Regions from separate parts of the Homo sapiens genome. Here region 2 is linked to region 1. The links come from fine-mapping of genetic effects on gene expression. A gene starts in region 1. The other region holds a variant in brackets. All regions are shown on one strand. Distances are between the middles of the regions. Region 1 holds the start of SPATA1 (spermatogenesis associated 1). Region 2 overlaps SPATA1 (spermatogenesis associated 1).

Evidence for each region. PIP is the estimated chance that this variant, and not a neighbour inherited with it, causes the effect.
Region 2: its variant is fine-mapped to the expression of SPATA1 in lung (TOPMed, PIP 0.97).

What each region holds. Positions count from the first base shown.
Region 1 is chr1:84,504,686-84,507,605 of GRCh38, forward strand. It overlaps SPATA1 (spermatogenesis associated 1), which reads left to right and starts at 1,701. Exons shown (of 14, transcript NM_001397487.1): 1 at 1,701-1,733. It overlaps GNG5 (G protein subunit gamma 5), which reads right to left and starts at 1,896. Exons shown (of 4, transcript NM_005274.3): 1 at 1,751-1,896; 2 at 1,326-1,616. The coding sequence starts at 1,406. RefSeq lists silencers at 1,162-1,291, 1,542-1,621.
Region 2 is chr1:84,546,277-84,549,196 of GRCh38, forward strand. It overlaps SPATA1 (spermatogenesis associated 1), which reads left to right. Exons shown (of 14, transcript NM_001397487.1): 11 at 2,510-2,688. Among named protein-coding and RNA genes, the nearest start is that of CTBS, 27 kb to the right of the region's middle. The variant C/T (reference allele first, on the strand shown) is at 1,442.

The DNA of each region.
Region 1 (2,920 bases):
TTGGGAGAGTAGAGAAATGGATTCCAAACTGCAGTGAGGTCTACAGCATTTCAAGGACTGGACGTGAGGGGGATCCCACACCAAGACGAATGAGAATTCCCTTCCCTTCTGAGTTGACCACAACTGAGTAAGCTAGGTCCCTGACATTTCTAGTTAACAAAACTAAATGGGAGACTCTCTCTCAGGAGGATCCTGCACCAAGACGAATGAGAATTTCCCTTCCCTTCTGAGGTGACCACAACTGAGTAAGCTAGGTCTCTGACACTTCTAGTTAAGAAAGCTTAGAGACCCTCTCAGTTCACAAAACATTTCGGCAAGTAATAAAGACTAGCCTGATGAGTATAAAATCAAATCATCTTAGGAACTGGCTGCTTTTAACAGGGCACATGATTTACATTCTTGTTTCTTTTTTTAACTGCAGAAGTGTTTCACATGTAGCCTGACCTATTGTACCAGAAAGAAGCCAATCCATTTAGGACTGTAAAAATCAGGAAATACTTAGAACAGCACTTGAATGTCAAGTTATTCTATCAACACAGACAAAAGGCTTTTTCTCCCAAAGTACCCCAAGACAAGGCCAATACTAACCAGACGCCAAAATAAGACCAATAATTACCCACAATAATCATTTTCTCCGGCATGCGGACCAGTCGATATCCCCAAGGTCAAATATGAGCAAACTGTGCCATAGGTATGAAATGCACGCTTTGTTCGAGGTTGTACGGGGCACTGACCGGAACTTTACACTCCAGGATCGTTTCGAAAAATGCTTATTCAATCCACAGTTTAAGTTATGCAATAATTCGCTTAAAAGTATGTGTTCAACGGACAAGAGAAGTTGAAGGTAAGAATTTAATACTAAAGGAAGTAGGTTTGGGAAAGATCAAATGGGAGAAAAGTCTGCTCTGAATCAAAAGTCGGAAAATACCCTGTCCGATGAGAAACAGGAGGCTGGCAAAGTGGGAAAGGAAGGGTGCGGACAGCGCGCGGAGGCGCAGCTGTTGGTGAGACCAGCCGAGAAGGCTGCCAAGGGAGGTAGAGACGGAGGAGGACCGGAATGTCGGCCACGGTTCAACCCAGGGGCCAGCCCGCCTCGGAAAGTCCTGGGGCGGAAGGGCGAACTAATCGTCCCCCTAAAACACAGCGTAGACCCACGCGGCGCCTGCTCTAAAGCTGGCCGCTCCCCGATCGCCGCCGCTGAGCGCGCGTCCTCTCCAGGGGAAGCGAGGGCCGGCGCGTGTCCCGCCCGCCCCCGCCAGCTGGGCCGCCGGATCCCACCCGCCGCCGCCGCCTTCCTCCCGCCTCGGCCGCCCGCCCCCGCTCACTTTTACGCGGTTGAGTCCGGCCTCCAGCCGGAGCTGTTGAACCACTTTCTTCATAGCGGCGACGCTGGAGGAGCCAGACATGGTGCACGCGACGGCCGGGCCGATTCGTGGGTCGGTGGGTCGTGGGCCGTGGGTCGGCGGGGCCAGACAACTCAGCGGCGCGCGGCGGGGGCGGGGCTCCGAACTTTGTCTCTAAGTTTCCGGTTCTGTGCTCAGCGGCTCCACCCTCGGTGCGCATGCGCGCCTTGCCAGCCCTCTGTTCCAGCTCCACACCCGGCCCCGAGCGCGAGCCTGGAGGAGGGGGAGGAGAAGGGGCGGAGCAGTCGGTGGGCGCGGCGGCTGCTGGAGGCTAGCGCGACCCGACTCTTAAGTTTTCTTTTCCTCTCCAGAGGGGCCGATTAGGGAGAGGTAAGGAGAGAGCTTACCGTTAGCCGCGAAGAACTAAGAGGGGGTCTGAAGAGGACCAGGGAGGGAAGGCAGAGCTTGTGGGAGTTTCTAAAAGGCCCGGCGGCGGGTGACCAGGAGGTCTCAGTTTTCCTCCCAGTTTGTGGGAAGGGTTGAGGGAAGTGAGGGGAGATACTGGGTGAGGCGTAGGAGCTACTGTGCACCCGGCGTGAGTCACCCGCACACCCCCGCCCCGTACAGGCGTGTCTCTCTGTGACCCGAGTTTGGCCAACAGGCATTTTCAGTTCCACCCCCAACCCCCAGCCCCGCTGACCCGAGGCGGAGAGCAGGCGCGGAGGTCGCTGTCGCGTACCCAGCGGAGCCGGGCGGGCGGGGAGCAGGGGCGCTGATTCGCTGGAGAAGGGATCTTCTCGAGGTTTGACTTTACTGGCTTCTTAGCTCTTGAATCGGTTTTTCTGAAGGAGATTGTGAAGAAGCCAAGGTGCTGGCTGAAGATTACACCTGTCTGCTCGGTTACCCATTTACTCTGGAGAATTAATGCTTATTGTACTTTTTAAAATAAAACTTATTTTTGTGTTTCCGGAAAGTTTGCTCTTTAGTATTTCCGTTGTAATTTATTACCTCCTGCTTGAAATTGAGTACCAAAGGAGTTTTTAGGAGAGAGGGTAGGGTCTAACCAAACAAAATAGGCTCAGCCAGTAGGTCTTTCTTTCATCCACGGAAATATGTGTGTTATGTCACAGCACTAAGGGCAGATGTTTCCTATTTCTTTTCGGGTAGTCAATCTCCGAATGCGCTGATGTTTTCCATTAATGTTAATAATTTTATCATTAATGGATTTCAAATTTTTTATTAGGGAAGCATGTGTAATTGCACTGGTCAACAAAATCTAATTTATTTACTCAACAGTTTATATCAGTTCGCAAAAATGTACATCGTAAGTTTAGCATTTTACTTAATTCATACGGATGTAATGATTGGGGTTAAAACCAGGGTTTGAATTCTGGCTCTGCTACTTACGGTATTCTTGGGCAAGCCACTTAAGTTACTGAGGCTTTATTTCCTTATTTCAAAGTAAATTATACAGCTTCGTAGAGTTGTTTTTCGGAATGAAATGACATTATATGTAAAAAGAATGTGAAAGCTATCTCAATAAATATTGTCTTTTCCCAAAAGGTATTGTAATTATT
Region 2 (2,920 bases), 42 kb after region 1:
AACTCCGTCTCTACTAAAAATACAAAAATTAGCCTAGCCAGGTGTGGTGGTGGGCACCTGTAGCCCCAGTGACTGCAGAGGCTAAGGCAGGAGAATGGCTTGAACCCAGAGGCGGAAGTTGCAGTGAGCTGAGATTGTGCCACTGCACTCCAGCATGGGTGACAAAGCAAGACTCTGCCTCAAAAAAAAAAAAAAAAAAAAAAACTTGATGAAAACTATGATAAAGGAATTACAAAGTTCTATGGATAGGAATACAAAGGGAGAACGCCTAAATTAGATGGAAGAGATCAAGAGAGGCTTCCAGGAAAAGTGTTGGATATGCTAGGATCTGAAGTACACTCTTGGTTCTAGGTCTTCGGGCATGCTTTTCCCTCTGCCATCTACTTCTCCTCTTACCTTGAGGTACCCTCTTCCCAGTTTACCTGCCTATTTCCTATTAGTCAGTCAAGATCACCTTATATATCACTTACTGTAGAAGCCTACTTTGAGTCCCTTGGTCTCTTCTGTACTTAATTTTTTGATATGTGTGTGTGTGTGCCTTGCTTTTAAAAGTGAATGAATGAGGGAAGTTAAGTAAGTTTTCTTGCAGTACAATTAGAAACAGTGTTGTTAGGACTGGTGGACTGATGAGGCAGGATGAAGACAGTACATGATGGTGGCTTGAGAGTTGCTAAATTATTTGAGAGGCCTCCGTTTTGGGTTGTGTTGAGGATTATAAGGATAAAAGGTATCTATGGAATTAAGTGGTTTTATGATTCTCAATTTACAGCAAAATTGTTTCAGCACTAGAACTGATTGAAGGTTATAGACAATGTCAGGAGATACTTCTCAAGATTCTGCTTTACAATGTGTTATCCTGAAAGTGGTGGCAATGAGTCAGCCTTGTTGTAATGTTAAAAAAGCAATTTTATCAGACAGATTTGAACAATGGACTGAAAATCACAGGACCAGGATTGTAACACCAGATCTATCTTTTACTTAGACAAGTTACTTCCCCTCTTTGTGCCTCACCCTTTCTGTTTATGAAATGGGAATGATCCATCACTTCCTATTTCAACAGGAATATTTCAAGATAAAAGGTATGTATTGGCCATAAAATATTTATTGAGCCTACTATGTGCCGGGCACTGTTTTAAATGCTGGGGATACAGCAGTGAACAAGACAGACATGGCCATGCCCATAAGGAGCTTGCTTCCCTATGGGAAGAGACAGACAATAAACAAGTAAGACAATATCAGCTTTGATCAGAGCTGAGAATTCAATTAAAAAGAGCATAGTAAAGAGTGATGAGGCAGGGAAGAGATGCTTTAGGTAGAATTTTCAGAGAAAGTATCTCTGAGAAGATTAAGATTTGATTAATAGGGAGGCAGGCACAAAGGGAACACTAAATATCAAGGTCAAGAAATAAGAATGACATTGTGGCATTAAGGGCCTGAAATA[C/T]GACCAGTGCTGCTGAAACACTACGTAAGAAGGAATGCAGAGGGGGATAAAATCAGAAAGGTCAGCAAGGAATAAATGGGCCAAATCAAAGATTTTGGATTTTATTCTAAGCAAGGTAGGAAGCCACTAGAGGATTTTGAGCTAGGGATTTATATGATTTTAAAAAATATTTTAGAAAGATCAGAATGACTGCTGTATAGAATACCCTGTACAGGGGCAAGAATGAAAGCAGACAGACCAGTTAGAAAGAGAATGCAGACTTCTTGGTAAAAGATGACATTGACTAAGGATGTAGCATTGAAGAAGGTGGAATATGCTAGATGCTAGAAGTATTTTGGCAGTAATACCGGTAGAAGTTGCTAAGGGATTGGATAATAGAGCATGAGATAAATATCCAAAATCTTGAGCTAAAGTTCCATGTAGCTATATAATTTTAATTAAATCACCTTATAAAGTAGAATTTTTAAATTTGAGATTTTTGTTTCTATGATAATCTAAAAGAAAGAAACTAAACAAATTCTGGTATACTGGCATATAGTTTGTGTTCCTATTAAGTTTGTATTTAGAATCTCATTGGTATCAATGCAATTTGTTAAACTGGTAGTGTTTAATTTCTAATGATTAATTTTGGATCAGTTTTCCATAATCATGGGAAAAAGTAACATACATATATTACTTTTATAGTTATATATGTTATATGTATATATGTTATAGTTTTATATATGTTATAGATTACTATATATAACAAGTATATATATTGCTTTTATAATATATATTACTATTCAATGTATTACTTTTAGATATATTACTTTTATAGTAATGTATATTACTATAAAATATATATATATTACTATATTTCTATACAAGTTCTCTTATAATCCAAAAAACATTTCTTCCTCAGGTCTAATGACCTCAGTATATAAAAAAAGGAGAAGAGGAGAGAAAGAGGAAAATGGTTTAAATTGACATTAGCTCTAGGATCCTTTCCAGGATGAAAAGTTGAATCCTTTAATACTCAAACGAAGGCCTTTCCTTTTTTTTTTTTTTTTTTTTTTTTTTTTTTTATAGCCTACAATGGTTGGAAGAAAAAATACTTGGAAACAAAGAAAGTCACAGCATCAATGGAGGAGGTTTTAACAAAACTTCGAGAAGATTTGGAACTCTACTATAAAAAACTGCTCATGCAACTTGAAGCCAGGGAGATCAAGATGAGACCAAAGAATCTGGCAAACATCACAGACTCCAAGGTATTACTAAATGTATCCCCCTTCCGTTAGAGAAGTTCTGTTCAAAACACATGCTTTATAAGTGCTAGTAGTATCACAAGATGCATTAGGCTAACTTTGACTTAAACTTGCTTAAAACAATAAAAAAACTCATGACCTTATGTAATAGGAGGAGCATTGCTGAGGAGATACAGTCAGCAGCTTAATGTTGCCTTTAAGGGGTCTGATATTTTCTTCCTATTATTTTCAGTGT